4 linked regions of the Homo sapiens genome follow. The protein of the gene in region 2 interacts with the protein of the main gene of each other region in a pairwise test. Each region holds a gene or a part of one and is shown on either strand. Other genes may lie near its edges.

Region 1 (7,914 bases), on a different chromosome or scaffold from region 2:
TTTCCACTTGTCTCAGTCTAATCATCAGTAAGAGATAAGGACAGCCTCTCAAGAGTACCATGAAGAAGGTTAATAAAAGCATTCTGAACACAAAATGTTCTACATAAACCCACACAATCTACATAAGAGACTAGTCTAAAACAAATTTCTGCAATGTATTTTAGCTCCAATCTCTAGGCAGAATGACTCCTCTGCACCACAAAAAGGACAATGACAGACCAAATTAAAATTCATTACATACCAATGTATAACTGTAGCACTTTCATCTGGACAATCTAATGTTAGCCTCTCACAAGTGATACAAAATATTCTTTTTTTTTTTTCTCAGGCGGAATCTCACTCTGTCGCCCAGGCTGGAGTGCAGTGGCACTATCTCGGCTCAATGCAATCTACGCCTCCAACTCCCGGGTTCAAGCGATTCTCCTGTCTCAGCCTCCCGAGTAGTTGGGATTACAGGAGCCCGCCACCACGCCCGGCTAATTTTTTCTATTTTTAGTAGAGACAGGGTTTCGCCATGTTGGCCAGGCTAGTATCGATCTCCTGACCTCGTGATCCGCCCGCCTCGGCCTCCCAAAGTGCTGGGATTACAGGCGTGAGCCACCGCGCCCGGCCAATATAAAATATTCTTGATCAGGCAGACCTATACAAGTCTTTAGCATCCCTACGGCACTTAGCATTATCATTTTTTTTTTAAGGAGTAGGCATTAAACATCCTTTCAGAGTTGCTCCAATATAAAAAAAGACTTTTCAAATGTCTAGCTTAATTAAACATTTTAATCTTTAGAAACCCTACCTTGGCTCTTTTGAGAGTCAGGTTCATGGTTTCGGTTGACTGGCACCACAAAGAGGAAGCAATGCTGTTAATGTAAGTTAAAAACCAAGAGAGTTTTGTGATGGAAAGAAAACAAAAAAGAAATCCTAGCAGTAACTATAGTATTTCTATGCTCATTCATTTTACGGCTGGTGCCAACCAAGAGGTATCAAAAAGAGAGAAAAAAAAAAAAAAAAAAAAAAAAAAAGCCAGGCGCGGTAGTTCACGCCTGTAATCTTAGCACTTTGGAAGACCGAGGCGGGCGGACTGCCTGAGCTCCGTAGGTGGAAACCTGCCTGGGCAACACGGTGAAACCCGTTTCTACTAAAATACAAAAAATTAGCCGGGCCCGTGTCTGCAGTCCCAGCTACTTGGGAGGGTGAGGGAGGAGAATTGCTCGAACCCGGGAGGCGGAGGTTGCAGTGAGCCGCGATCACGCCACTGCACTCCAGCCTGGGCGACAGAGCGAGACTCCGTCTCCCAAAACAAAAACAACAAAACACACAAAAAATCAGTGCTGGCTCAGGTGCTCAGTCACTAAGAAAATATACAAGGGCACGGGAGGGAGGAGGAATAAACGAGAGAATGGCAGACAACTCTGTTCTTTAAATAGGAAGAATCGCCTTTTAATGCTATTCTAAACAAACGAATTTAAACCAAATGAGTTTTCTCCTTTTATAACTGAAGGTATAATGGACTGGCAAGTTTCCTTAGACTCATTCCAGTCTAGCTCCGAAATTTCCCAGCACTCTCTCATCCCCACTCCAAGATCTTTGATAACAAAAACCAGATTCTTTTTCTAAAATCTCCCTGCACTCAAGCCAATAAATACAACGATATAAGTCACACAATGCAATCATTTTTGATGAATACTATATAGCAGTTTTCCATTCTGTAATCCCCCAAATTCTGCAAGACAGTTAACTTCGCTGAACTCTTTCATGCCTTACTGTAGCAGCAAAGTAGCCTGTTATGGTCTGTACCATAACCACCACCCATTTTTCGAAAGAATACTCTAATTTATATGGTGAAAAAAAACAGAAAAGCTGATGTTCTCAACGTCGAGAGCAATCCTTTTTCCATACCTTTTTGGTTTTTTAAATATATATATTTTTTACCCTTATCCACGCCATTACATACGAGAGAGATATAAAACAGACATCTAGGAAACTCTGAATCGGCCAAAATACTTCAGAAAATTCAAATACATGCTGTAACTGCGGAAAGACTAATAATGTAACCGATTCGTGCCTCTACAGAGCTGCAAGGTGGACTATCTGTCCATTCTCATCCAGAAACTGAAACAAGCATCTGGTAATTTTCCCTCACTACCAAAAAGTCCATCGTTCTTTTCGACTGTAAATGGGAAAAAAGGCGAGAAGGGCATTTTTAAAGCCGCTTCTGCGGTCACTAAATTCCAATTACGCATCTCAGATACTTCGAGAATCTGTGATTAAAGCCAAAGTTTCATCCCTCGAGAGCAAAGTACAGTAGCTGGGAAAGAGGGCAATTTTCTAAGTTGCAAATGAATCTTTGCGGGGGTGGGGGGAAGCAACAAAAATATTCTAAGCCAAGTGGAACTTGAAATACTATAGGCCAAACGTGCTTCTCTTCACTCCAGAAGTACAAGCACGTCAGTGTGGGCCGATTTTCCACAAAGGGTGGTGACAGAAGCACTACACATATTTTTTCACTGGAACCAGACAACCCTAGGGAATAAGATCCCAAGGTACAAAGAAGTAGAACTCAGAGGCTAACAGAACACCAGGCTCTTAACCACCGCCTCCTTAGGAGGTGGCCTGGCTCCAAGCCCAAGACGGGTGGGGTCAGACTTGTGAGTGGCCAGGGGGGAATTCGACGCCGTCTTAAGACGTGCAAGGAGATTCGCCCAACATCTCGTCTCTCCCCTCGCTTTAGGAGGGCCACATTTCAGACCCAGAGGCTTTCCGGCCTTTTAGAGTCTCCAAAATCCCCGCCACCACCCTCCTCCCGAGGACAGAACGTGTTAGTGCCAAAACGGGGAGGGAAGGAGGGCGCTCACCTTCCACCACACCGCAGAGGAACCGCCGAGCCCCTCCTGCAGCCCCGGCCACCGCCGCTCCCCCAGCCCCGGCGGGGTTGTCTTCTCCGGGTGCCGGAGCTGCCGGCGGCTCCAGCGATGCCCCCGCAGAGGCGGCAGGGTTGGAGCTGAGCTCGCTCTCCCGCTCCTCCAACGTCGCTTGACTCTCCTTCTGCACCATCCTCCTGCCCCCGGCCGCTGCCACCTCTGCGGGTCCTCCTCGACCTCTGTCCGTTGGGGCACCGGCCCGGAGCCCTGGAGAGGGCTTCAGCTCCAAGTGTGCGCCCCTCCGGCTCCTTCCCCTCCCCCTCTGCCCTTCCCCCTCCCTCTCCGCAGGGACCCGAATGCCCGGATGAGAAGGGCGGCGGCACCGGCGCGAGCCCTTTGTCAGCCGCAGCCTCGGCTTTAAGCTGGGGCGCCAGAAGCCTAAGCGGAGAGCGAGGCTGTGACCTCTCGTTCCCTGGAAGAAGACGGCCAAGGGTCCTGTCCTCGTTCTCTGCCTCTGCTGCCCTCCCGATAATCTTAGGTCTTCCGCTGTTTCCCCTCCAAGCCCCGAGCTCTCCCTCTGCTGCTGCCTCCACCGCCCGCTTCCTGTTTATCCGCACTGCGCTTGCGCTGCAGACCGGCTCAGACCGGTCCCCTCCGCCCGGCTCCCCCGCCTTCTTTGGGGCTAGCCTATTAAGCTTCTTTAGGTAGGGGGAAATAGAACAGGAGACGCGAAAAGCAGAAGGTAATGAAGGCAGTGGAATGTACCATTTCTGCTTGCCACCCTCCGAAACAAGCCTGGCACCCTGGGACGGACGGACCATTACCCGCCCCGAAGGAGGGGAGTATGGGAGGAGGCTGCCGCCGGTTGGGGCAATAGGGAGAAGGGGGGAAGGTGAAAAGGAGAGGTGTTTATTCTCTCAGTGCGCAGGCGCGGAGCCGCGGCCTCTCGTTCTTAAAGAGATAGGAAAGAACTGACCTACTTTCTATGGAGATTCTTGTAATAGGTGGGCTCATTACATCTGCCTAACCCAGGCTTGGTTCGGTAAAGACACCATTCCAAGGAGCTCAGCTCACCCCTCTGCCTTGAATCATTTTCCCCTAATCCCATTTAAAATGTAATCATTCGTTCATTCCTTCATTCAGTAGACATCTATAGAGCTTGCCTCGTGCTGGGCTCTAGAACACTATGAGCTCACAGTACGGTGGTGGAGACAAGCCACCACACACGCAGTTCCCACAAGGTGTCCCCAAGAACTTCGGAGCTCAGAACAGGTGATACTCACTCCTCCTTTGGGGAGAGGCCGTGGGCATGGCTTCACTTTTCAGCTGGATTATAAAGGATGTGAAGTTAGCCTGACTGAGCAGAAGGGGAGGGAAGACAGCACTCCAGGAAAGTGGAACGAACAACAGAGTCCAAAGGTAGGGAGGCATGAAAAGCCTGCCTTGTTTGGGAATGGGGAGCGCGCGGTGTGTGCAGTGGGGCATGAGATCCCTTCGGCCTCGGCATGGGCATCGCTTCCTTGGGAAGCCTTCCCTGAGCCCTAGATGGGTTTGGGTCTCCTTGCTGTATGTTCTCAGAGCTCTCTTGTAGACCTACCCTAATGCACTTTACATTTATGATGCTTGAGAAATCTATCTCAACCTGTGAGGTATAAACATGAAATGATGATTAAGACTTAGTAATGTCCATCTTACACTTCAGTCTGATATTTACCTTCTTTAGCCGTAGCCCAACTTGTAGTTTCAGGGACTTTCATGGTCCCTCTTCTTTTCAGTCCTGGATTGTTGAGATGGGGGTTAGGAGCAAACTTTTTTTTTTTTTTTGAGACAGAGTTTCACTCTGTCGCCCAGGCTGGAGCGCAGGAGCGCAGTGGCGCAATCTCGGCTCACTGCAGCCTTCACCTCCTGGGCTCAGGCTATTCTCCTGCCTCAACCTCTCGAGTAGCTGAGACTACAGGCACCCGCCACCACACCCGGCTAATTTTGTGTTTTTAATAGAGACGGGGTTTCGCCACGTTGACTAGGCTAGTCTTGAACTCCTGACCTCAGGTGATCCACCTGCCTCGGCCTCCCAAAGTGCTGGGATTACAGGTGTGAGCCACCGCGCCCGGCCGGACAAGCATTTTCTTAAGGGACCTCCTGTGCTGAGAGTTAGGGGCCATAGCAGCTTTACTGGATATTGTGGTCCGTTGGGGTTGAGAACACAATTTTTTTTTTTTTTTTTTTTTTGTAAGAGAAGAGGTCTCATTTTGCCACGCAGGCTAGTGCAATCATAGCTTAAGTATCGAATTCCTGGGCTCTCAAGGGATCTTCCCGCCTTAGCCATCCCGAGTAGCTGGGACTATAGGCGAGTGCCCGCCACCACACTCTTTTAATTTGTTCATTTTTGGTAGAGACGGGGGTCTCAACATCTTGCCCAAGCTGGTCTCAAACTCTTGGGCTCAGGTGATCCTCCAGTCTCAGCCTCCCAAAGTGCTGGGATTACAGACACGTGCCACCTCACCTGGCCGAAAAGAACTTTTATCTGAGGAATGAGAGTCCTTTTAAATTATCAGGCCCAGATGGCTGGGCGCAGTGTTGGTGTTTGCAACCAGCCTGGGCAATATTGCCAGACCCAGTCTTTATAAAAAAATAAAAATAGGCCGGGCGTGGTGGCTCACACCTGTAATCCCAGCACTTTGGGAGGCCGAGGCAGATGGATCACCTGAGGTCGGGAGTTCGAGACCAGCCTGACCAACATGGAGAAACCCCGTTTCTACTAAAAATACAAAATTAGCTGGGCATGGTGGCAGATGCCTGTAATCCCAGCTACTCGGGAGGCTGAGGCAGGAGAATCACTTGAACCCGGGTTGCGTGAGCCGAGATCGTGCCATTGCACTCCAACCTGGGCAACAAAAGCTAAACTCCATCTCAAAAAAAAAACAAAAAAAAAAAAAAAAAAAAAAAGCCAGGCGTAGTGGTGTGCACCTGTAGTGCTAGGATCTCACCACTGCACTCCAGCCTGAGCCACAGAACAAGACCCTGCCTCTAAAAAAAAAAAAATTAAAAAATAAATAAATCTTTAAAAATTAAAAATAAATAAATAGGCCCAGCGAGGCATTAAAATGACAGAATCAGCCGGGCTCAGTGGCTCACGCCTGTAATCCCAGCACTTTGAGAGGCCAAGGCGGGCAGAAAGTCAGGAGTTCAAGAATAGCCTGGCCATCATGTTGAAACTCCGTCTCTACTAAAACTACAAACAATAGCTGGGCATGGTGGTGCGCGCCTGTAATCCCAGCTATTTGGGAGGCTGAGGCAGGAGAATCACTTGAACCTGGGAGGCAGAGGTTGCAGTGAGCCAAGATCGTGCCACTGCCCTCCAGCCAGGGCAACAGAGTGAGACTCAGTCTCAAAAAAAAAAAAAAAGAAAAGAAAATGACAGAATCACATCCTATGCCTCCCTCCTTTGAGCTATGTATTCATCTCTTGACACTGCTTGCTCTTGCCACAAGTAGCTATAAATTAACCTAATAATGTTGTACTGGACATTCTAACACACACCCTATAGTTTAACAATGTATAGCCAATCAATAGCTTATGTTATTTTAATGTAAACTGTTGGTAAATAACTCAGGAACTGCCTCTTCTTTCCCTATAAAAATCCACTTGTAACTGCTGCTAATCAGAGTGTCTATTTAGGGCAACTTGAATCTATGCTCTTTCGTTGCAATCCTCAAGCTTATAATAAACTCTCTACTTGTATTCATTTTGCCTCAGCTTCTTCCTTATAGGTTGACAGGAGATTTGGGGGCTGTCATTCTGGCTGATGTCCTTAGTCTCATGACATTTTCCTCTTTGCCTTAATCACTGCCAGCAAGTCAGCAGCCACAATTTCTCCTACTTTCCATAGTCCAGTCTCATAGGGAAGGTTTGCCCCATTTCTGTGTCCCTCAAATTTGAAGAGTGGTTCTTGCCACATAACTGCTATACACTTTCTCACCATACCACACCTCTCTCCACCCACCCCCAACACCTACAACAGTAACAGTGCTTAGTAGACCTATGATGAATATTTGCGGAATGAATGAGATAGGGCCCTGCCCTCACAGATTTTACATTCTGTTTGGAGAACCAGACAATAACAAATTCAGTACACACATAGGAACTCACAGTTTGTGGTAAGGGCTATTAAGGGAAGAAACCTGCCAACTGCATCAAGGAGGAGCTACTTCAGATGGACAAATAGGAAGGAGTAATTTAGGTGAGTAGCAATAGTGGCTTGGGCTAGGAAACAGCATCAGAGAGAGAGAGGTGGTGTACCTTTGGTGGTAGAATTGGTGATTGATTAAATGGGGGTGGAGGGAGAATGAAGGAGAGGAAGAAATGGAGACTTCTAAATTTCGACCTGAGCAACTAGATGGATGTTGGTGTCATTTACTGAGATGGGAAAGACTGGAAAGGCATGAATCTAAGCTCCATTTTGAACATGTTAAGTTCAACCATTACAGGTCCACATTAATATATCAAATAGGCAATTGGACTAGGCACGGTGGCTCATTCCTGTAATCTCAGCACTTTGGGAAGCTGAGACTGGAGGAGGATCACTTGAACCCAGGAGTTCAAGAGCAGCCTGGGCAACATAGTGAGACCCCATCTCTACAAAAAATTAAAACATTAGCAGGGTGTGGGTGGCACACACTTGTAGTCCCAGTTACTCTGGAGGCTGAGGTGGGAGGATCGCTGGAGCCCAGGAGTTTGAGACTGCAGTGAGCTGTGATTGTACCACTGCACTCCAGCCTGGGTGACAGGAAAAAAAAAAAAAAAGCGGGGGGCAATTGGATAGACAGGTTTTGGATTTCAGAAGAGAGAGTTCTGGGGATATAAACTTAGGAGCCTCTGCATATCGACGGTGTTTAAAGCCATGGGATTAGGGGTGGTTTGGAAAAGAGGCTTAGGTCTGAGCTGTAGGGCCTAAGATTTAAAATTCAAGTTGAGAAGGATGAGTCTATAAGGGAGGGCTGAGAAGGGGTAGCCAGAAGGGCACGAGGAAAACCAGGAGCGTAGGAAATACTGGAAG
Region 2 (7,623 bases):
CTAGCCAACATGGTGAAACCCCGTCTCTACTAAAAATACAAAAATTAGCTGGGCGTGGTGGCGCGCGCCTGTCTGTAGTCCCAGCTACTCAGAAGGTTGAGGCAGGAGAATGGCTTGAACTCAGGAGGCAGAGGTTGCAGTGAGCCGAGATCCTGCCACTGCACTCCGGCCTGGCGACACAGTGAGTCTCCGCCTAAAATAAAAAAGTAAAAGAAAAAAGAAACAGGTTTAGAGAGGGAAGAGGCATAGAGGGTCACAGAGGTGTCTCACCCAGGCTAACTGGTTTGAGCTGGAGGGGCCTTTTCCCCACCACCCTCCACTCTGTGATGGAGACTCCACCCATGAGTACTCACCCAGACAATGTGGTGGACACTATAGACATCCGTGTCACCCATGTAGACACGGATGGCACGCAGTGTGAAGCCATACTTCTTGCCCGAGCGCTGGATGGTGATGGGGGAGCGGAGCCCACTGACAGCTGGTGAGTAGTCCCGGCTGGGTGAGGAGTCCCGTGAGGATGGGTTGGAGGACAGAGATCGTGGAGACATGGGACTAGCAAGGGGTGAACTTCCATGTGGGTCCACTACAGACACACAACCATGGTCAGAAATCAGAACCAAGAAGATAGACATCTCCCTGTATCTGCTCCTCCCTCCTCCCAAGGCAGTGGCAGAGCAGCCTCTCATTGGTCCAGCCTGGAGCCAATCACGGTGGACAGGGAAAATGCAGCATTTTCATTGGTCTGTCCTGCCTCAAATGGGGGGCAGCCCCTCCCCTGCCAGGTGGGGCCCAGCATTACCTGCAGGAATCATGACAGATAAGGCAGTGGCTGAGGCTGATTTGATGACTTTGCCCCCAGTTCGAGAAGGCCTCTTCTCTACTGCCACATCCCCTGACATCTGCTGGTGCCGCGCCCGGCGCAGAACCAAGTCATTGGTAGCCCTTGGGCCTGATGCATCCCCATCCTTCGAGGGTGGGCAGAGGTCACCTGGGCGTGGACGGTCAGCTGCAACAGAAAGCAAGTGTGTTAGGAATTAGTCCAAGGCCAGGGATTTCCCACATACTGTTTCCCTGCCTGGAATGCTCTTTCCACTTTTTACCCTTGATGGATGGTGAGTTTCATCTGAGCAGGTAACCTGCATGCCTCACTGCTCCTCATATAGAGACATAGTCTGTATCGGTCTGTATCACTGACTGACCATGGTATTGGGGTGTTTCTAATGTTAAGAATCCCAAATTGGGCTGGGTGTGGTGGCTCACGACTGTAACCCCAGCACTTTGGTAGGCCAAGGAAGGCAGATCACTTGAGGTCAGGAGTTCGAGACCAGCCTTGCCAACATGAAGAAACCCTGTCTCTACTAAAAATACAAAAATTAGCCGGGGGTAGTGGCGCGCGCCTGTAATCCCAGCTACTCGGGAGGCTGAGGTGCGAGAACCACTTGAACTTGGGAGGTGGAGGTTGCAGTGAGCCGAGATCACGCCACTGCACTCCATCCTGGGTGATGGAGTGAGACTCTGTCTCAAAAAAAAAAAAAAAAAAAAAAATCCCAAATTGCAATGTGAATAGGACCTGAGATCTTTCATAAACAGCACCAGGCTCGTGGGATGCTCACTATATGACCAGTAGGACATTGGGGAAGATTGGGGAAGGCAGCACGATAGGGCACTCACTGGCCTCGGAGTCCCCGGCGCTGGAGGTGCCTTCCCCTTGAGTCTCCTCTTTGGGGGCCCGTGCATCCAGGGATCCCGCGGGGTCGGAGCTGGGCCGGGGAGGCCTGCGCAGCCGGGCCTCATCCTCGTCCTCTTGGGGGGCGCTGAAGCGGCTGGGCTCCAGCAGCGCCGAGAAACGGCGGCGGGCGCCCAAAGGGGGACTGGCCTCTCCCTCCAGGAAACTGGCCTCGGACGCGGAGAATCGCTTGCTGCATGGAGGGGGCGTGGTTATGGAAGACACGCCCCCTTCGACCCCGCCCCCAAACTCCGCCATTCCCCTGCTCACATCTCCGGAGAGCCCCCTCTCCAGGTCTTCTCACGCAGGGTCAGGCCGCCCAGCCCCTCCCGCTTGCCGGCCACCTTCTCCTCGGGGCCCTTGGTGCTCGGCTCCCGCTTGCTGCTCCCTGCAGCTGCTACTGGGGTCTTGGGCTCGTGCTGCGACAGCTGCTCCATGCTGCTATACACCTGTAGGTGGTGGTGGGAGGCAAGTCCAGCCCGGGTTCCACTTTCACTCCGGAGCTAATCAGCTTCCTGGCAGTGGATCCCCCGCAAAACGCACTCCACCCTCCGAGGCCTGGCTCCGCCCAATTGTGCATGATCCCCCAACCTACAATTCTTCAGTTCAGGCCCCACACCACAAAGTTAGGCACTGCGTTTTATTCTAGGCTCTGCCCCGACGATGCCCTGACCAATCTGCTCTCTACACAGCCCCATCTTCCCAGCAACCCCCTTAATTTATGTCTCCTTAGCCCAGGCTAGGCCCTGCACGCCTCTACAAGTTGCTTCTCAAAGCAAGGCCTATGGCTTCTCTGCCCGTTATTAGAAAAAATAAAAATAAATAAATAAAAGCAAGACTTCGCTGGGCTTTACTCCGCCTTCGCTGCTGGCCTCATTCCCACGTCCTGACCCCGCCCCACCCACACCTAGCCCCGCCCCACCATGGCCTCAATCTGCACAACTGTCCTGATTCCTGTTAGATTCCACTCAGTGCCAAAGGCCCGTCCCATAGACTCCCGAACCTGCCTCTTGCGTGGCCTTACCACCTTCCAGACTCCCGCCCCATCAATAACTTCCCGCTCCTGAGACCTTGGGCACCAGGGAACCTGTTTCTCACTGTCTCTCCAAGCCCCATCCCTCCTGGGGTCTCGCCCTGTCCCACACCCAGACTTGGCCCACCTTGCTGAAGCGCGGAGAGCAGGAAGAGAACTGGCGGATTTCCACGGGCTCCTCCTCCGTCGTGTCATCCTCGTCATAGGAGTTCACGTGGTGATACCTGTCTGAGCGGGCTGGGGAGCGGGTATGGGCTGTGACTGAGGGTACGGGGTTCCTCCTCATATCACATCCCCACAGGAGCCCAGTCCTGGTTCAAGACGGGTTTACAAGTCTTCAGGTCAGGCCACGCCCCTGCCTCATTAGTGTATTTAATTTAGGCTCCGCTCCCAGGCAAGGTCCTTGCCCCATTCTCAGTGGCACCGTCTAGCCCCGCCTCCAAAGAGGCCACGCTCCACCTACAGTGCTCTGCACCCTGGCATCACCCCAGGCCATTCTGAGCGCTAGTACCTCTCTCTAGTTCAGTTCCAGGCCCACACTCACAACTCACCCAGGCCAGGCCCCACACCTAGCCCAATCTCAGGTTCTTACCTACATTTCAGCCTGAGCCCCGCCTGTATGTCAGCCCCGCCCCACTTGGCCCCGCCCCCACCAAAATACCACCTTCGCACCTAGGCATCACATCTTGGTACTTAGCCAGGCCCTATCCCAGGCTTTACTTACCCCAGGGTCCCTCTTCCCGGATCCCACCCCTCGACCCAGGTCGTGCCTGGTGTCCCAGCTCACTGTCAAAGTAGCTAGTGTCATCTTCCGACTCTAGGTGGGGGATGAACTCGGCCTTCTGCCTCAGCAGCCCTGTCCAGTCCAGGTCTCGAAAGAAACTGTGCTGCTTCACCTCAAAAGCGCCGCCTGGGACGGAAGGGATTCCAGCCACAGCTGATGGCCAACCCAGCAGCCCAGCCCCGCCCCCCATGTCTTCCGCCCCGGGGCCACAGCACAGGCTGGGCCTGGGGTTTTGGAGGCCTGCTCTCTATCAGTGGGCCCTCAGCTCCTCTGCATGGCGGACTTACCTGCCCCAAGCCTGACCAGAGGGTTGGTCTGCAGGAGGCTGGATATGAGGAGTTGGGCCTCCGTAGGTAGGGCCTCATCCCCCTCGGGCCACAGGATGTCATCTGCAAAACAAAACGGAACTTAGGGGCGGTTTTTGTTGTTGTTGTTGTTTGGACACAGGATCTCACTGTGTCACCCAGCTGGAGTGCAGTGGCACGATCATGGCTCACTGCAGCCTTGACCTCCTGAGTGCAAGCGATCCTCTGGGGGGTCGCTTTTGAAATCCCTGGAACCCTGAGCCTGTCCATCTCTCCGTGCACACCACACTCTGCCCCTGTACACTGCCAAGCCACGTACCACTGATGACCTGTCCAAATAGCTCCTCTGGTGTGTCTCCGAAGAAGGGCACACAGCCCACCAGGAACTCGTAGAGGATGATCCCCATAGCCCACCAGTCCACTGGCTTGCCGTAGCCTTGACGCAGGATGACCTCGGGCGCGATGTACTCTGGGGTCCCACACACCTGGGGGCAGGCTGTCAGCCCACGCCCCAGCCAGAGGAGGGCCCTCAAGGGAGAGCTGTGCCCCCCACCAGGCCCTGGGTTCCCGAGGTCCTGCAGGGTCACTCCACCCTCAGCGACCCCCATGCCCGCACACACACCTGTTTGTCCAGGAACTCTCGGGCGTCCTTCTCGATGTGGCCTTCATATAAGTTGGTGGTGAGGCTCATGAGCCCCATCTTGGAGAGGCCGAAATCTGTGAGCTTGATGTGACCCATGGAGGTGATAAGGAGGCTGTAGGCACAGGTGGGGATCTCAGGGATGAGGCCCGTCCATTCTGCCTCCTGGCCTCCCGAGGGACAGAGGGAGTGATGGGAAAGATCAAAGCTCACTTGTCAGGCTTGAGGTCGCGGTGCACGATGCCATAGTTGTGCAAATACTCCAGGGCTAGCACCGTCTCAGCAAAGTACATGCGGGCCATCTCTACGGGCAGCGCTCCAATATTCTTCAGCAGGGTGGCACAGTCGCCGCCTGCAGGCCAGGAAATGGGCCCGCATAAAAAGGGAGGCATTCCTCTCTCTGGACATGCACCATAGCACCAACTTCTCATGTTATGTTGTACCCGTTTTATAGATAAGGGAAACTGAGGCTCTGAGAGGGGCCTCCCTCCCTCCAGGTCCTCTACTGGGTTCTTCTTGTCCTCTTAGCCATCCTCCAAAGTTGGTGTCATCAGCTCATCTTATACACAAAGGGATGGAGACTCAAAGAAAGGATGGGTCATGCAGGCAGTTGTTGGTAGAGGTGAGGTTTAGTTGGGGAACAAAGGCTACCCACTTATCAACTGCATCTGGAAGCACAGCCCTCTATCTCCTGGTGTCTGAACCTTGGAGCTGGAAGCCTTAGATGCAGATTCTTGGTCTTCACTAGATTTTTTTTTTTTTTTTTTGAGACAGGGTCTTACTCCATTGCCCAGTCTAGAGTGCGGTGGCAAGATCACAGCTCACTGCATCCTCAACCTCCCAGCTCAAGCAATCCTCCTGCTTCAGCCTCCTGAGTAGCTGGGACTACAGATGTGAGCCACCATGCCCAGCTGATTTTTAAAAAATTGTTCAAGGCTGGGCATGGTAGCTCACGCCTGAAATCCCAGCACTTTGGGAAGCCAAGGCGGGTGGATCACTTGAGGTCAGGAGTTCGAGACCAGCCTGGTCAACATGGTGAAACCCCATCTCTGAAAAAAGAATACTAAAGTTAGCCTGGCTTGTTGGCAGACGGCTGTAATCCCAGCTACTCGGGAGGCTAAGGCAGAAGAATGGCTTGAACCTGGGAGGCAGAGGTTGCAGAGATCCAAGATCGCACCACTGCAGTCCAGCCTGGGTGACAGAGCAAGACTCCGTCTCAAAAAAAAAAAAAAAAAAGTTTTTTGTAGAAACGAGTTTCATTGTGTTGCCCAAGCTGGTCTCCAACTCTTGGGTTCAAAGGATCCTCCTGCCTCAGCTTCCCAAAGTGTTGGCCACTGCCTCTGCCCCTCTGCCAGATTTACTGTAATTGGCATTGGTATTTCAGTTTCTCAATATCTATTTCCTTTTTATCCTACAAAGGCTAGATTTCCTTCCATGTGCAGCAACCGGGGCAGTATGTAACCCAAGTTGCTCCAGTGAGTTAGCCCTTGGAATTTTCACTCTTTTCCTGTAAGAATTGCTAAGCTCATAGAATGTAAGCTGAGATCTGCTAGATGGCAACCTTGCTACATGAGGGCTTGTCTAGAAGGAAGCCCACATGTGGGAGTACAGAGCCAAGAGATGGAGAGTTTCCTGATGGAATGGTTTGAGCACCTACATCCAGCCATTCCTGAAGGTAATATTGGTTTTTCAATCACCAATGACCAAGAAAGCTAATGATTTCTTTCTTTTTTCTGTTCTCTTTTCTGCGAGATTTTGCTGGTTTCAGAAACTCTCTGAGGGTGGGGCCCAGGAATCTGCATTTGAGCACATCTATTGTGCACACAGACCCACCATAGAGATACTGATTTGGCCCCCTTCTCTCCTCCTCCTCTGCAATGAACCTGGACTAGAGCAGTCATCTACCTCCTAGTCTCCTGATTCTGCTCTCTCCACAAGAGCCAAATGGATTATCTTTTCTTAATTTTTTTCTTTTTCTCTTTTTTTTTTTTTTTTTTTTTTTGAGTCAGAGTCTGGCTCTGTCACCCAGGCTAGAGTGCAGTGGCTCCATCTCGGCTCACTGCAACCTCTGCCCACTCACCGCCCCCGGGTTCAAGAGATTCTTGTTCCTCAGCCTCCCGAGTAGCTGGGATGATAGGCGTGCACCGCCACTCCTGGCTAATTTTTGTAATTTTAGTAGAAACAGGGTTTCATTGGCCGGGCACAGTGGCTCACGCCTGTAATCCCAACACTTTGGGAAGCCGAGGCAGGCACATCACCTGAGGTTGGGAGTTCGAGACCAGCCTGGCTGACATGGAGAAACCCCATCTCTACTAAAAATACAAAAATAGCCAGGTGTGGTGGTGCATACCTATAATTCCAGCTACTCAAGAAGCTGAGGCAGGAGAATCGCTTGAACCCGGGAGGAGGAGGTTGCGGTGAGCCAAGATCACGTCATTGCACTCTAGCCTGGGCAACGAGTTTAGCCAGAGCGAAACTCTGTCTCAAAAAAAAAAAAAAAAAGGAAAAGAAAAAAACAACAACAACAGGGTTTCACCATGCTGGGTAGGTTGATCTTGGACTCTTGACCACAAGTGTTCTGCCTGCCTTGGTCTCCCACTGTAAGTGCTGGGATTACAGTCGTAAGCTACTATAATGGGCCTCCAAATGGATTTTCTTAAAACATAAATCTGATCATATCAAATCTTCTTAAAACCCTCCATTAGCTGGACATGGTGGTGCCTGCCTGTAGTTTCAGCTACTTTTGGAGGCTGAGGTGGGAGGATTGCTTGAGCCCAGGAGTTCAAGGCTGCAGTAAGCTGTGATCACACCACTGCACTCCAGCCTGGACAATGCACTAAAAATAAAACAAAACAAGGCTGGGCGCAGTGATTCACGCCTGTAATCCCCATACTTCGGGAGGCCGAGACTGATGGATCATTTAAGGCTAGGAATTCGAGACCAGCCTGGCCAACATGGTGAAAATCCGTCTCTACTAAAAGTACAAAAATTTGCCAGATGTGGTGGCACACGCCTGTAATCCTAGCTACTCGGGAGACTGAGGCAGGAGAATCACTTGAACCTTGGAGACGGAGGCTGCAGTAATCCGAGATCACCCCATTGCACTCTAGCCTGGGTGACAGCGTGAGTGAGACT
Region 3 (8,315 bases), 4.4 Mb from region 2:
TTAGGGAGGCCACCGACCTGAGGCTGCGGAGGCTTTTTGGGGTACACGTTGAACTCAGGCTGCGCAGGCTTCTTGGGAAAGGTACTCAACTCAGGCTGCGGGGACCTCGGGGTAGCCTCACCGGCCTCGGGTTGCCAGAGCTTCCTGGGGAATGCGCCGGATTTGGGTTCGGAGGGGGGTCTGGCGGGGTGACTGAGTTCGTCGGGCTGCAGGGGTTTCCGGGCCGGCGCACCAGGCTCCGGCAGCGAGGCCTTCAAAGGGGCCTCACCGACCTCAGGCTGCAGGGGCTTCCTTGGAAACGGAGTGGCCCCCAGCTGTGGGAACTTCTTGGAGAGGTCACTCAACTCCAGTTTGGACGGCTTCTTGGGGAGGTCAGTGACCTCAGGCGGCGGGGGCTTCTTGGGGAGGTCAGTGACCTCAGGCGGCGGGGGCTTCTTGGGGAGGTCAGTGACCTCAGGCGGCGGGGGCTTCTTGGGGAGGTCAGTGACCTCAGGCGGCGGGGGCTTCAAGGACACTGCACCAAACTCAGGCAGCGGGGCCTTCTTGGGGTGCTCGCTTAGCTCAGGCTGGGAGAACTTCTTCAGTTTACCAAACTCAGGCTTCGGAGGTTTTTTGGGCAGGTCGCTGGGCTCCGGCTGAGAGGCCTGGAACTTTGCTTTGATGCTCCGGAAGTCCTGATGGCTCTCCTAGGAGACGCAGAGCCAATGAGGCAGGGGCTCAAACACACAGAAGGGGCATGGAAGGATGGGCCTGGGGACCCTCAGGCACAGCCCACAACCACCACCCCTGCGCCCAGGCCCGGTCAGCCCTCAGCTCTTTCCCAGGAGCCCCCATGGATCCTAGGATCCTGGGACCGACACCCCTCCCTACTTCTCCATTTAGTGCTGATTCCACACCCAACCTCCTCTAGCAGCACTGGAGATCCCGACATCCCTCCTGCAGCCTCCAGTCCCACTGCCCTCCCCCCATGGGTGGTACCCCACCCCCCCAGCATCCTTGACCCCCTCATTCTTTCACCCCTCCCACTGCATGTCTCCAGTCTCGTTCCATTGCCCAGGCTGGAGAGCAGTGGTGCAATCATAGCTCACTGCAGCTTGCAACTCCTGGGCTCCAATGATTCCCCCGACCTCGGCCTCCCCAGTAGCTGGGATTACAGGCTTGAGCCGCCGCGCCCAGGCCCCCAGTCCCTTCTGTGCTAATTTCAAAACACATCCGGAATCCAACCACTTCTCACTGCCTTCACCACTGTCACCCCAGGAGGTAGTGGGAGGCAGTGTCTGCCCTCCCCCAACCAATTGCCTGGATTACTCTAACAAGCCCTTCCCTGGGCCTCTGCCTACCCCCTTCCCTGGTCAGTTCCCCCCATGGCAGCTGGAGGGAGAAGCCTGTTGAACCCTGAGTCTGTTTGTGTCCCTCTGCTCAAAACTCGGCAATGCTTCCTCATGTCCCCACAGTTCAAGCTAAATGCCTCATAAAAGCCTGGGCGAACCAGCCTCCCTACCCAGCCACCTTCTCCTCCCTGCACCCTGAACACTTCCCTCCGACCTCGGGGCCTCTGCCCTGTCCCTGACCCAGGACATGTCTCTGCACCACCTGGGTCTCTCCTTTTCCTCCTCCCAGCCTCTGTTCTCATATTTTCTTATTAGAGAGGCCATCCAAGGCCACCCTATTTGTTTATTTTTATTTTTTGAGATGGAGTCTTGCTCTGTCACCCAGACTGGAGTGCAATGGCGCGATCTCGGCTCACTGCAATCTCCACTTCCCAGGTTCAAATGATTCTCGTGCCTCAGCCGCCCAAGTAGCTGGGATTACAGGCACTCGCCACCACACCTGGCTAATTTTTGTATTTTAACTAGAGACAGGGTTTCACCACGTTGGCCAGGCTGGTCTCAAACTCACGACCTCAGGTGATCCACCCTCCACCCGCCTCAGCCTCCCAAAGTGCTGGGATTACAGGTGTGAGCCACCGTGCCCAACCTAGACCACCCTATTTTTCTTTCTTTCTTTTTTTTTTTTTTTTTTGAGACGGAGTCTCACTCTGTCACCCAGGTTGGAATGCAGTGGTGGAATCTCGCCATACTGCAACCTCCGCCTCCTGGGTTCAAGCGATTCTCAGCCTCCTGAGTAGCTGGGATCACAGGTGTCTGCCACGACGCCTGGCTAATTTTTTTTGTATTTTTAATGGAAACAGGGTTTTACCATGTTGGCCAGGCTGGTCTCGAACTCCTGACCTCAAGTGATCCACCCACCTCGGCCTCCCAAAGTGCATGAGCCATCACGCCTGGCCTAGACCACCCTATTTTAAATGGATCACCCCATCCCACTACTGCCCTGCATTCAGCATGCATGATTTTCTCCATCGTACCCACCCCTACGTATTATACTATTTTACATTGTTTTTAATGTGTCTTGATTTTTTTTTTTTTTTTTTTTTGTCTCTCTACACCACAACTTCCCTCAGTTCCTCAGCCTCTGCAAGGCAGAGACTTGGCTCATTCATTGCTGTCTTCCCAGGGCCTGGAACATGGTAGGTGCTCAGTAAATATTTGCTGAAATAAACAATATTCAGGCAGCACAAAGACAGCCATGTACTCAGCCTGACCATCAGGAAAACACAGAGATGCCTGGAGACGGCCATGCGGTCCCTCTCACACCGTCTCTGACATGCGGGCTGATGGTCAGGAATGCTCACAGTTGACAGTGCCTGAGAGGATTGGTGCAGACACCGTGGGCACAGGCGCTGTCTCCTGCATACCCAGCTGTCCCAGCTGCCCTCCTAGCTGGCCCTGCAACCACTCCTCACAGAGGTAGGCAGATTCACAAGAAGGCCAGGCCTCCTTAGTCCTACAAACGCCCCTTTCACCTGTGGTCAAGGAGATTGGGGGAGGGAAAGGGCAGAAACGTGTGGCCTTTGCTTCCTGCGTGTGCCTCACTTTCCCCATCCAGAGGACCAGAGACCAGGATTGCTCCTTGGAAAGGCAGCAATTCCCACCTGGGGCCTGAAGTGCCCCTGTCAAAGCCCCGAGTGGTTTGAAGGAAGTGCTCCCGGGCGACCACAGGGCTAGATAAGTCAGGGTTAGCAGGTCACAACTTGGGTGACTGGACGGGGGAGGGTCATGACCCACTTTGTCACCCCGCAGGAAAGCACTGCTCTCACCCCAGCAGCCCGTTCCCACATGGCTGCTCATGTTGACCTGGGGAGACGGGAGTTGTCCCCCCGGGGAGTCCCATCTGTCCCCCTCGCAGTCCCAACCTGAGCGTGAACCCCCAGGAGCCCGCGCTGTCCTGGGGTGTGCCTGGTGGCCGCCTACCTCGGGTCCTTTTTGCCGACCCTTCCCGTTTCCCAGATGTCTTTCGCAGCCACCCCCCGCCCCCCCGCCCGCCCCTCCACAGGTGGATCCTATCCTTCTGGGAACATCTGTGTCCCTTGCTTCCCAGCCAGTGAGGCACAGGCCTCTTCCAGCACTCACCATGGCTGCAGGCAGGTGATGGGCCATGGGATGAGTGGGACCCGAGCTGGGGCCGCTGCCTTCAGGAAGTGACTGTGGCTTCTGCTCCACGGTCAGCACACAGGGTGGGGGCTGCTAGAGGTGGGGCGGGGGAGGGCAGAGGAGGAAGGGAAGGAGGTGGGGAGGCTCCAGTCCGTCTCCAGATCCTGCCAGCCACTTCTTTTTTTTTGAGACTGAGTCTTGCTCTGTCGCCCAGGCTGGAGTGCCATGGTGCCATCTCGGCTCACTGCAACCTCTGCCTCCCGGGTTCAGGCAATTCTTTTGCATCAACCTCCTGAGTAGCTGGGATTACAGGCGCGCACCACCGCTCCTGGCTACTTTTCGTATCTTTAGTAGAGAAGGGGTTTCACCATGTTGGGCAGGCTGGTCTCAAACTCCTGACCTCAAGGGATCGGTCCGCCTCGGCCTACCAAAGTGCTGGGATTACAGGTGTGAGCCACTGCCCCGGCCCCTGCTGGGCACTTCTATTTCGCTTGAATTCCTGTCCTGCCTGCTACTGTCCCAAGCTTGGGGCACTGGTTGCCCGCATGTTCCTAACATGGTCACTAGTTTCTTTCTTTTTTTTTTTTTTTTTTTTTTTTTTGAGACGGGGTATCACTTTGTTGCCCAGGCTGGAGTGTAGTGGCGCAATCTCGACTCACTGCAACCTCCGCCTCCCAGGTTCAAGCGATTGTCCTGCCTCAGTCTCCTGAGTAGCTGGAATTACATGCATGTGCCACCACTGCCGGCTAATTTTTTGTATTTTTAGTAGAGACGGGGTTTCACCATGTTGGTCAGGCTGGTCTCAAACTCCCAACCTCAGATGATCTGCCCGCCTCGGCCTCCCAAAGTGCTGGGACTACAGGCGTGAGCAACCACGCCTGGCCAACTAGTTTCTTACTCTCTATAGTCCCCATCATTCCTACTACTTTGGTGTCCCCATCTCTGGACTCCAGGGAGGACTCCATGCCAGGCCCTGGTGACCTCCTGGGCTAGAGAGCCACAGGATGGGGAGATCTCAGCAGATCAGGGGTACGGACAGCTCTGGGGTTTAGGAGGCTCCTGGGGAGGCCCAGAGGCCCAGGACGTGGGGGCCCATGTGACCGGGTGAGGCCTCTGCTGTCTGCCCTGGTTGGCTCATCCGCCTTCCTCATTTCAACACTTCCATGAAATCCAATTCCCGGCTCTGAGCAGGACTCACTTGTTCTGGGGCAGATATCACAGGCCATGGATGTCCCAGGCTGCCGCCCTGGGCAGAAAGCTTAGCTGGTACAGCAGATTTGGGGGTCGGTGGGTGAGTGGTGTCAAAGGCCTTGCACCTGGGCCACGCACGGTGGCTCACGCCTGTAATCCTAACACTTTGGGAGGCTGAGGCAGGAGGATCACTTGAGCCCAGGAGTTCAAGACCAGCTTGGGCAATGTAGCAAGACTCCATCTCTACAAAAAATATAAAATTAGCCAGGTGTGATGGTGCACGCCTGTGGTCCCAGCTGCTTGGGAGGCTGGGGTGGGAGAATCACTTGAACCCTGAAGGCGGAGGTTGCAGAGTCAAGATCACGCCACTGTACTCCATGCTGGGTGACAGAGAGAGACTCCATCTCAAAAAAAAAAAAAAAAAAAGGCTTTGCAGTTCTGGAGGAGTGAGGGGGTCTGAGGACCCGAGGACACACCAGATTCCCAGAGGTTAGAGGTAGTAGAGAGAAGAGGAACCAGGAGACAGAGACAGGGGCCAAGAGGGGGTGAAGGCAGTCACTTGTGGTGCCGAGGACTGGCCAGATAAGGACAAGCCCTGACCACAGAGCTCAGCCCACAGGAGATCAGTAATCTCCGTCACGGTAGACAAAGGGAGAAAACACCTGCTAAGAGAGTAGAGAGCCCTGGTTTTCAGTTTGAGCACATGTTGGAATTGCCTGAACAGTTAAAAAAAAAAAAAAAAGAACCGGCGGTTGGGCAGTGTGGCTCACGCCTGTAATCCCAGCACTTTGGGAGGCTGAGTCGGGTGGATCACCTGAGGTTGATCACCTGAGGTTGGGAGTTCAAGACCAGCCTGGGCAACATGGAGAAACCCCATCTCTACTAAAAATACAAAAATTAGCTCGGCGTGGTGGCGCATGCCTGTAATCTTGGCTACTTGGGAGGCTGAGGCAGGAGAATTGCTTGAACCCAGGAGGCGGAGGTTGCAGTGAGACGAGATGGCTCCACTGCACTCCAGTCTGGGTGACAGAGCAAAACTCCATCTAAAAAAAAACAAAACAAAAAACAGAACCTACAAGAAACTCTGACTTAATCAGTCTGGGGTGTGGCCCGAGCAAGTATTTTTAAAACATTTTAAAATTTTTTTTTTGAGACAAAGTCTTGCTCTGTCTCCCAGGCTGCCTCCCGGCTTCAAGTAGCTGGGATTACAGGTGCCTGCCAACATGCCCGGCTAATTTTCTGGATTTTTAGCAGAGCTGGGGTGTCACCATTGGCCAGGCTGGTCTCAAACTCCTGACCTCAAGCAATCTACCCACGTGGGCCTCCCAAAGTGCTGGGATTACAGGCCTTAGTCACTGCGCCTGGCCTGCCTGTTTTCACGCCTCCTTTAAGAGCACAGACATCAGGATTCTGCCATCTCTGTTGTGCCTTTGCATCCTGTCCTGGGGCACAGTTCCCAGATGTGGGTTGCCCTCCCAAAAAGGAGTCTCGGGAGGACAGTATGGGCTCTCTGTGGGTCTCCAGAACCTTGGCAAGTGAAGGAAAGAATGAAAGAAAGAACAAGTGGCCAGGCGCGGTGGCTGACGCCTGTAATCCCAGAAGTTTGGGAGGCCAGGCGGGCGTATCACCTGAGGTCAGGAGTTCGAGAGCAGCCTGGCCAACATGATGAAACCCTGTCTCTACTAAAAATACTGTTTGTGCACACCTGTAATCCCAGGTACCTGGGAGGCTGAGGCGGGAGAATCGCTTGAACCCGGGAGGCGGAGGTTGCAGTGAGCTGAGATTGCGCCATTGCACTCCAACCTGGGTGACAAGGCGAGACACCGTCTCAAAAAAAAAAAAATTAAATTAAATAATAAAAATAAGTAAATAAATAAATCAAGCAATGCTTGGCCACAGTAAGGAGCTCAATCAAGGTAATTAAAGGATTGGATGACAGCTGATGGATTCCCAGGTGCCTGGGCTGGTCACTACCCGTGCACTCTCGCAGCTAGGAGGGTCCAGCCAGGGCGCGCGCACCAAGGCCCCACGGGGGCGCCGTGGGGGTGAAGCGCAGGTCCCGGAGCTGTAGTCATGGTGCGCCTCCCCGCCAACTACCCTTTGTGTATTTGGCGCCTCCGTAGGGGCTCCCGGCAGGGTTCCGCGCGGCGCGGCTGCAGACAGGGACAGATAGGGTTACCGGAATCCCGGAGAAGGGAGCCCGGACCAGGGGAGTGAGAGTTCGTTAGGGCGCGCCTTGGGGAATCTGCGGGGTCGGAAACGCGAACAACGGTGTGCAGGGGGAGGAGCCCGGGGAGCACGTGGGCGGCGGATCCCAGGGCCGCAGGGCGCCCTCCACCTCCCCGCTCCTGGCCCGCAATGAGGGTAACCGGACCGGCACCTGCAAGTGACAGCTGGGGCTGGACAAATGCCGGGCACGGGCCTCTGGCCGGCCTCAGAGCTGTTCAGCGCGAGCCCGCGGCTTCCAGCCAACCTGCCCGCTATCCCCACTGCTCTCCCGGCTTTCATTCCCCCGAGTCTGAGATTCCTGGGCGCCCCCTGCTGGGCGGAGCCGGGGCCCAAGAGGGCTGGGCTCCTGTGCATGGGGGTTGGGGGCCGGCTTGAGGGTAGGAGGTCGTTTCTGCAGTGGACAGGGTGAACGGTGGAGGACAGGTGGTGAGCCAGCTCCCCAGGCCTCGCGGCAGTCAGTTCACTCCAGAGGGTAGTGTGGTGGCCGTGGGCCCGCTGTACACACAGGAAGGGCTGTCCCATCTCCGTGGGTGATGGGGTAGGGGAGAGGTCCCTGGACGGACGTGTTGGCTCTAGGTTTCTCTGGAAAGATACTGACAGACTGGGAAGAGGCGTGGCCTAGATCTGGGGGTGGCCGAATAAAGAAACTGATGGGGACAAAGACTCCTGGGGGCCCCCGGGACCCTGGAGAGGGGTTAGGGGCCTGGGGGACAGAGAACACAGCGCTGTCCCTGGAGATGGGGGAGAGGCTTGGACTACAGCCAGATCTAGGGACCTGCAGAATGCGGGAACAGGGGCGTGTCCTCTGGACCTGCTGGCAGGGTTTTCTCTTCTCGTGGTAACCGTGCGCAGCTCCCAAGATGGTGCAGAATCAGTGCCGCTGACTGGGAACTGGGGCTGGCTAGAGGCCTCCTAGCCTCACCTTCTCTATATATCTGTAAAATGGGCCCCTTCACCCTGTCCCACCCTCCTCCCCAGGTCGAGAGAGTCCCAGGCAGCCATGGGCTCGGGACGTGAAGTTCTCAGCAGACATTTCCCAAGCCCCTCCTCTCCCTGCAGCCTCTCTTTTCATCCTCGCGTCCACCCCAAAGGACTCACCAGTCATCATGACACCCTTTTAAGGACGAGGGAATTGGGAGGCAGGGAAGTCGACTCTTTTCCAGGGTCCCACAGTGGTGGTTTCAAGGCTTCTGGCTGAGAAGGGGGAGCTTAGGGGGCCTCCTGATGGCCTGTCCTACCCCATCCTGACAACCACCTCAGCTGGGGCCTACAGGTTCTGGGAGAGTGGACACCCAGCCCAAGCCACGTCAGCTGAGGCTGCTGCCCCGTCACATCACAGCCCCATCAAGGACAGAGCAGTCTTCAGGCCCCTGGTGAGGCGGTGGGCAGTGGGGCAGACAGACG
Region 4 (7,751 bases), on a different chromosome or scaffold from region 2:
GCTCCAGTAGACTACCAATGTGTGAACTCTGAAGCTGACTATCACATCTAGTGAAATATAAGGAGGCTTCCTGACCAAGGCAAATCTTGGAGTTAGTGGGACAACACTTAAGTATGAATGAGTTTCATAGAATTGGAGAATGTTTGTGTTAGATTCTAGCCTAGACTTCCATTCAACATAAAAACCTGGTCTTTTCTATTGAAATAGAAGTAGTTGCGGCCGGGCACAGTGGCTCATGCCTGTAATCCCAGCACTTTGGGAGGCCGAGCCAGGCGGATCACCTGAGGTCAGGAGTTCGAAACCAGCCTGGTCAACATGGTGAAACCCCGTCTCTACTAAAAATACACAAGTTAGCTGGGTATGGTGGCCAGGTGCCTGTAATCCCAGCTACTTGGGAGGCTGAGGCAGGAGAATTGCTTGAACCTGGGATGCAGAGATTGCAGTGAGCCGAGATCACGCCATTGCACTCCAGCCCGGGGGACAAGAACGAGACTTCATCTCAAAAAAAAAAAAAAAAGAAGTAGTTGACAAACACATGTCAAAGATTGGTGGACAGCAAAGGAGGAGACACAGGGTGGAAAATTTGCCTTGAGACTGGCCTTGTTTGCTTTAACTTGGTAGAGTGGCATGGAAGCAACAGGCAGAAGGCATATCTGCAGTGGCAAATGGTGCTGCCTCACAGGATTTATAAAGATTTTCTTTTCTTTCTTTTTAGAGAGAGCTGAGTACAGCAGTGTGATCATAGCTCACCGCAGCCTCAAACTCCTGGGCTCAAGTGATCCTCCCGTCTCAGTCTCCTGAGTAGCTAGGTCTAAAAGTGTCTGCCACCACATTCAGCTAATTTTTTATAAAACTTTTTCTTTCTTTTTTTTTTTTTTTTTTTGTAGTGGTGGAGTTTCACTATGTTGCCCAGGCTGGTCTTCAACTCCTGGCCTTGAACTCAAGGCAGGAATCCTCCCACCTCAGCTTCCCAAAGTGCTGGGATTACAGGCAATATTTTCTTTTTTAATATTAGAGACTTCATACTAGAATTCTGTTTCTGGTTGCTTTGTCCCACGAGGTGTCACCGGGCTGTACAACATCTCTTCTGGCTGGAATAAGAAGGATAGAACACAGAATTTTCTTCTTGGAGAAATGTCTTCCTGGGTAGGTCATTTGGGGGTAACCCACTGGGAAACCGGTTTTATTCTGTACCTCCTCACCATGCCCATATGGGGGCTGAGTGCATGGGTGTGAATTGCTGGGTGGAAATCTGGTAATAAGGGTGCCACCCTGATGATGAGGACAGAGCAGGAGGCCAGCAAAGAGATGATGATAGAAATCTCTGGGCATGGGGTGGAGAAATGTAATCGCCAGTATGGAAAGGGTGGCAATAGCTGTAAAACTGGTCCCCTCCACCTTCCCCAGTGATTCCATCTCCTCCTGAGCTCTTACTCTTGCAATTGTATCCTCTCTGACACATATTTAATCTCTCATCTGTACTGGTTCCTTCCTCTCATCCTCCAGTAGACACAAATTTACCCTTTCTCCCCAAAGAGCTTCCCTAATATTTACCTCCCTCTCAACTCATTACGATGTGGCTTCTGCCCACCCTTCCCTTCCACTAAAACTGCCCTCTCTAAGGTTGCCTGTAACCCAGTTGCCAAAACCAATCTTACTTGACTTTCTGCAGCTTTTAATTCAATTCACTGTCCTCTCCTTGCCTTCCTGGGATTCCAGGACATAACTCCCCGGGTCTCCTACTTCGCTGACTGATCTTTCTATTTCTGCTGGCTCCTCTGTCTTCACCCATACTTTAAACATTATCATTTTCAGAGCTAATACTACTCCCATATGGCATCCTTATAAGAAGTTGTGAAAGGGGCCAGGCGTGGTGGCTCATGCCTTTAATTCCAGCACTTTGGGAGGCCGAGGTGGGCAGATCACGAGGTCAGGGGTTCAAGACCGGCCTGGCCAACATGGTGAAACCCCGTCTCTCCTAAAAATACAAAAATTAGCCGGGTATGGTGGTGCGTGCCTGTAATCCCAGCTACTCAGGATGCTGAGGCAGGCAAATTGCTTGAACCCAGGAGGTGGAGGTTGCAGTGAGCCGAGATTATGCCACTGCACCCCAGCCTGGGTGACAGAGTGAGACTCATCTCAAAAAAAAAAAAAAAGTAGTGAAAGGTACATCATACTCTGTGCACAGCCTGGGCCAGGGTGCATGGCTTGGCAAGCAGAGCCTGGACTGCATTTTAGTCCCTACTCACCACACTCAGCCTGGTGCCCTTGTGCCATGAACACCCTGTGCAACTGCACATTGCAGCCCAGGGCACTATCTGTGGTCTTCATCTCTTTATTGCTCTATCCTCTTTCCCTCTGTAACCCTGCTGACTTTCATTGTTCCACCTCGAACCTATGTGTCTCATCTAATCTCTAGACATCTTTTCATCTACGTCCTGAACTTCTCTTCCTGGGTGTCCTGTGGGGCATCCTAATTTTGCTATGGCCCAAACTCAGTTCAGATCTGCACACTTGCAAATATGCAAATATGCCTATTTTTCTGTATGCCCTCTCTTGGTTAATGACACCACCTTCCATCTTCTTATTCCGCTGAAAACTTCAAGATTATCAATGCCTCTTCCCTTTCCGCAATGTAAGGCTTTTGTCCTCTCCCAAGTTCACTACTGGAAGAACCTTCTAACCAGTTTCCCTATCTCCAGAGCCCCTCCCCTCCAAATTACTCTCCCCACTGCCACCAGGTTTCTTTTTTTACACAGACTTGAGCATATTTTTCCTTTGTTTCAAAACCCATTTTGTCTTCTAATTAACCATAAGATAAAGTCCAGATGCTCAGGCATTGAACATAAAACCCTTTATATCTTGGCCCAAACCTACAAAACTTTTCCAGTCCTACACCTTGCCTCTGCTCCCAAAACATGCCTTGCTCTTAGCCACATCCGATTATGATGCACCCTTTCTTGAACATGATTTTATTCACTGCGCCTTCGCTGGTGCCTTGAATGCCCTTCTCCTGTTCTTTGACTTGTAAAAATCTCATCCACTCTTCAAGATCATGCTCTCTTGTCACTTCTATTTTCAGGCACCCTTTGGCCCTAATTGACAGTGCTCTCCTCATTGCTTCTACAGTCTACAGCACTATTGGTATGCTACTACAGATAGTCTAAAAGTTGTTTTGCATCTCTTTCCTACTACATTGAGTTTCTTAACGGCAAGATTAAGCTTTGTTCGTCTCTATGTCATCAGCAGTTTGTCCAGTGCCTAGTACATGTTAGATACTGAATAAAAATTTATGACTTGAATTGGGCAGGATGCTTGAACATCATTTTGTGAAAGGACCAGTGATTTCTTTCTGTATAATTTTCAGCCTCTTCTTTTTCAGATATTGAAAGAACCTCAGAATAGGATGGTTGATGGGCCCACTTAAGATAGTTGCTATGTTATAGCCCCAATTTTTAGCCGAGTCTCTCTAGGGACATAGAAACCGTGCTTTCTCAAATGACTGATTGGTGCCTGAGTATGGATTTTTCCAGATATCAGAGTTCCTTAGAACTGCGATGATTTTCAATCTAAGAAGACCTAGATTCTAGGTTACACACACACACACTCAACCTCATCGTTTTGAATAGCAGATACAGGGTTTCAGTGTTTTTGTTTTACTCTCTGTGGGTTCTATCCCAGCATCTTACTAAGGGCTGAGATTTCAGGGCATGAAACACGGAATCAACAAAAACAAGGTTTTTACAATCTCAAAACTTTGGGAAACTGTTGAGTTATCTTGAAAGCCTAGAGGGGGAGCATCAGTTAGTTTTGTAGAGAACTCGGCGAAACAATATTGATGCATACGGCTAGCCTCTGTCATCCTCCTGAGTTAAACCCAACGGGACATGCTGGACTATACAGGAGCCACTCGTGGACTCCGTGAAGACCAGATGGGTAGTGTTCTTGAAATGAGCAGATGTCTATTTGTAGAACTCTGGTAGTAGCTTTGGAGTGGGTGGGGAAGAGCTTGGTTCCCATTCCCCCTCAAAGACAATTATTTGCTTCTGATGAGAATCCAAGCAACAAGTTGCCATTGAGAATGCAGTGATTGGTCAGCAAACGAAGCCTATAGGAAGAGCCTTCGGGTGCATTCCTTGTGACATATCGACCCGTCCTAAGCCCGACGCTTAATTATGGGACCTCTCAGCTCCTCCCTCCCGCCTCGAGCTCCCTTTTGGCTTCTCACAAGGCTTCCTGGGGACGATTCCCCGATGCTAGAGTACTGGGGGTCTGGGCCCACAGGGAACCCGTCAGCCTCCCTCCTTGGAGCGGGCCTGATCCCGGGAGGGCGCCCGCGCGGCCCGGAGGCGGGAACCTAGGGGGAGAAGGCGCCGGCGCCGCCCTGGCGCGCAGACCATCTGTGCGGTCCTGCGCGGGGGCAGGCGCGGCCTCAGCCCCCGGGCGCTGGCGGACCCAGCGCGTCAGCTAGGCCGCCCCCGTCGGCCCTCCCCCGGGCGGGGCCAGCCCCGACGGCGCTGACTCAGCAACGCGAGGGGGGAGTTTTGTCCCTCCGCGGACCCCGTTTCTCCCAGCCTCAGCCTCCCCGCCGCCGCCGCCGCCGCCGCCGCCGAGCCGGTTTCCTTTTTCCGGCGCTCCGGGTGCGAGAGACAGGTCGGGCCCCCTAGGCAGCGAGCCGCAGCGCAATCCCGGCGCTCGCCCAAGGACCCTGGAAGCTACCGTTACCCCGCCGGGCAGCGTGGGCGCCATGAGCAGCTCGGGTGAGGTGCCGCCGTCCCCCGCCGCGGTCCTCTGGAGGAGCTCCGCGGTCCCCGTGAGGCCCGGCGGCGGGGAAGGCCGGGGGCTGGGACCCTTGGCGATGGCGGGGAGGGAGCTTTCGGGGCAGGCTGGATCGGCCTGGAGGGAGACAGCTCCTTGGAGGAGGATGCCGCTTATGGGTTTCCCCGCTGCAGCGGGCACCCCAGGATGCGCTTACGAAGTTAGATTCGGGACGCGGGAGCCCCAGATCAGCCCTTTCCCCCTCTTTTTGCGTTAAAATCCTGTTTGGTCTCCCAACAGGACTGAATTCGGAGAAGGTAGCTGCTCTGATACAGAAACTGAATTCCGACCCCCAGTTCGTACTTGCCCAGAATGTCGGGACCACCCACGACCTGCTGGACATCTGTCTGAAGCGGGCCACGGTGCAGCGCGCGCAGCATGTGTTCCAGCACGCCGTGCCCCAGGAGGGCAAGCCAATCACCAACCAGAAGAGCTCAGGTGTGGGCTTCCACTTCTCCCATACGTTCCTTGACCTTCCTGACAGCGTCCCATTTTGGTGTCTTATTTAAGAGTGGTCTTAAATTCGTACTGAAAGAACTGGTCGTAAATTCGTAAAGAATGAGGCACAGGTACAGGCAGGTCTAAGAACATTACCCATGTGGTTTGTTTTGCTGTTCTGTGGCTTGTTAGTACATGCGGTTAGAGTACAAAAGTGACATGTCCATGAGTATACGTTTGAGTGTAATTGACTATATTATGTTCCAATGCTGTGTGGTTTGTAGCCCGTGTCTTGGAGATGTATGGTCTTGGTCACAAAACAGAACATGTGAAAATGTTCATATCTTTGGAGGACTCCCCAGAAATGCCCTGAAGGCCCTATACTATGAAATAGAAAAGATACAATGTAATTACATTAAAATGTCATCAGATGTTACTTTTAAATATGCTTCTTGGTTACAACTGAAGCTAATGTGCTGATGGGCTCAGTTCCCACCAGTAGATCAGTTTGTAATACAGAAAAAAGTTCTGTTCTCATGCCTTGCTGGTCAAGAAGTCTCGTTTTGCTATCTGCTTTCTAGCACCACTCTCAGAAAAAACAGGTATAGTGAAAGATTGGATATCCAGCAATCTAAATAAGGAGCACATTCTCACAACAAAATTGTACTAAACGGATTTTTTAAAGTCTTTCTATACTTAAAAACGACCCCCCAGTCTATCTATACGGACAGGAAGCACATCAGTGCTTGTTTAGAGTCGGTTAGAACTCACAAAGCACACATTTAACGTGAGTACATTTTATTGTATGTACATTATACCTGAATAAAGTTGATTTTTTAAATGTTAAGGAAAAAGTCAAGACCTTACAATAATTAATGTTTTGCTTTAGAAGAAAGTGCTTGGAGTGGTGTGGGCTCTCAGGCTACAGATGATCCAGTTAGTAATGTCACAGTGGTCCTACATAGTTTAGATTGCAGTGACCCGTTAGGGAACAGGTCAGGTCTTACACATTTTGCAGTGTCACTTTTACATACAAAAGATCCAAATAGCATGTGAGTTGTGTAGTTTATTTTCATGCAGTTTTCACATCACCAGTGCATCCAGATCCCCTCTACTAGAAATATATAGCATATAGAAGAGAGGTGACATACAGGTAAATGTAAGGTAAAGACGAACTAATAGGCACTAGTGACTTTCATAAAACACTATAGTTAACTAGAGTTTTCTTCTTGTTACAAAATTATTTTTGTTTAATGTAGAATATTTGTAAATACCAAGTAAATATTTTTCTTGTATATTTGTCAAGTTTTGTGTGTGTGTGTGTGTTTAATAGTGTTTAATATGCATTGATACCTTATACATTGTTATGTAAGCTACCTATCTTTTTCACTTACCAATATATTATAAACATATTTTCATATTAGTAAAAAGGTTATACCCAATACAAGTCAAAGTTTTTCCCTCAGAATTTTCCCTCAGAAAAGAGATAATTTCCCTGTATTTAAGACCTTAAAAGACTTTTCTAATGGCGCTCTCAGTTAATTTATTTTGAAGTAGAGTACAATTTGGAGAAGGCATTACTCTGAAAAATGGATTCTTTATTTGATACGTAAAGAGTGTTTTTGTGTTAAAGATATTAAACCTTTGCATATATATTGCTAATAATAATTACCACCTTTCTTGTTTTGTTTTTAATCTTTCTGCTCTTTCTGATTTACTCTTTCTGAATTGTCCAGATCGTGTCATGAGTTCATTGGTGGGAAATACAGTTGGAGCAGTGCAGTCTATGTGAACCCTCATAATTTCTTGATGTGCTTTCTTGTTTCAGGGCGATGCTGGATCTTTTCTTGTCTGAATGTTATGAGGCTTCCATTCATGAAAAAGTTAAATATTGAAGAATTTGAGTTTAGCCAATCTTACCTGTTTTTTTGGGACAAGGTATGGGACAGATCTGGCAAGATTCTTTTTGTATTGATATCAGCCTTGGTAGGGACTGCCTCTTCTTTTGTAGCTTTTCCAGTTATAGCCTGCCCTTTCATAATAGGTGAGACACCTTTTATTCTGACTTCCAGAGTATCAAAAGTTGACTCTTTCAAAGGCAGAACTGTTTTTGGTTGGTAGGTGGCCATTTTTTTGCAATGAAATAAGTTTACTGACTCATCTTACTGCTTGCTTGTCTATTTAAAATTTTAAATTTTATATTCAATATTCAATTCAATATATCTCCCTTTTTAACATCTTTTTAGGTTATTTGTTCTTTTCTAGGACCTAATTTCCCTCTCAAGAACTTGTCTGAAAAACAGTAAATAATTTTATTTGATTGTTTATTTGTTTATTTATTTTTTTGAGACAGTCTCACCCTGCCACCCGGGCTAGAGGGCTGTGGCACAGTCTCGGCTCACTGTAACCTCTGCCTCCTGGGTTCAAGCCATCCTCTCAACTCAGCCTCCCAAGTAGCTGGAATCACAGGCACATGCCACCATGCCCAGCTAATT

The links.
Region 1: the proteins of MAST1 (region 2) and OGA interact in a two-hybrid assay, tested with the Homo sapiens proteins (one study listed by BioGRID and IntAct).
Region 3: the proteins of MAST1 (region 2) and PRAM1 interact in a two-hybrid assay, tested with the Homo sapiens proteins (one study listed by BioGRID and IntAct).
Region 4: the proteins of MAST1 (region 2) and BLMH interact in a two-hybrid assay, tested with the Homo sapiens proteins (one study listed by BioGRID and IntAct).

The regions. Positions count from the first base shown.
Region 1 is NC_000010.11:101,814,972-101,822,885, forward strand, and holds the start of OGA (protein O-GlcNAcase), read right to left. Parts: upstream 3,474-7,914; 5' UTR 3,052-3,473; coding exon 2,853-3,051; intron 982-2,852; exon of another isoform or gene 794-981; intron 1-793.
Region 2 is NC_000019.10:12,862,026-12,869,648, reverse strand, and holds part of MAST1 (microtubule-associated serine/threonine-protein kinase 1), read right to left. Parts: intron 4,841-7,623; coding exon 4,702-4,840; intron 4,604-4,701; coding exon 4,471-4,603; intron 4,334-4,470; coding exon 4,168-4,333; intron 3,933-4,167; coding exon 3,831-3,932; intron 3,670-3,830; coding exon 3,547-3,669; intron 2,997-3,546; coding exon 2,887-2,996; intron 2,176-2,886; coding exon 1,997-2,175; intron 1,920-1,996; coding exon 1,672-1,919; intron 1,007-1,671; coding exon 800-1,006; intron 584-799; coding exon 354-583; intron 1-353. UniProt on the Homo sapiens protein: Microtubule-associated protein essential for correct brain development. Appears to link the dystrophin/utrophin network with microtubule filaments via the syntrophins. Phosphorylation of DMD or UTRN may modulate their affinities for associated proteins.
Region 3 is NC_000019.10:8,499,095-8,507,409, forward strand, and holds the start of PRAM1 (PML-RARA-regulated adapter molecule 1), read right to left. Parts: upstream 3,547-8,315; 5' UTR 3,498-3,546; coding exon 3,471-3,497; intron 1,108-3,470; exon of another isoform or gene 1,051-1,107; coding exon of another isoform or gene 1,018-1,050; intron 687-1,017; coding exon 1-686. UniProt on the Homo sapiens protein: May be involved in myeloid differentiation. May be involved in integrin signaling in neutrophils. Binds to PtdIns(4)P.
Region 4 is NC_000017.11:30,288,816-30,296,566, reverse strand, and holds the start of BLMH (bleomycin hydrolase), read left to right. Parts: upstream 1-4,622; 5' UTR 4,623-4,747; coding exon 4,748-4,760; intron 4,761-5,058; coding exon 5,059-5,256; intron 5,257-7,084; coding exon 7,085-7,194; intron 7,195-7,751. UniProt on the Homo sapiens protein: The normal physiological role of BLM hydrolase is unknown, but it catalyzes the inactivation of the antitumor drug BLM (a glycopeptide) by hydrolyzing the carboxamide bond of its B-aminoalaninamide moiety thus protecting normal and malignant cells from BLM toxicity.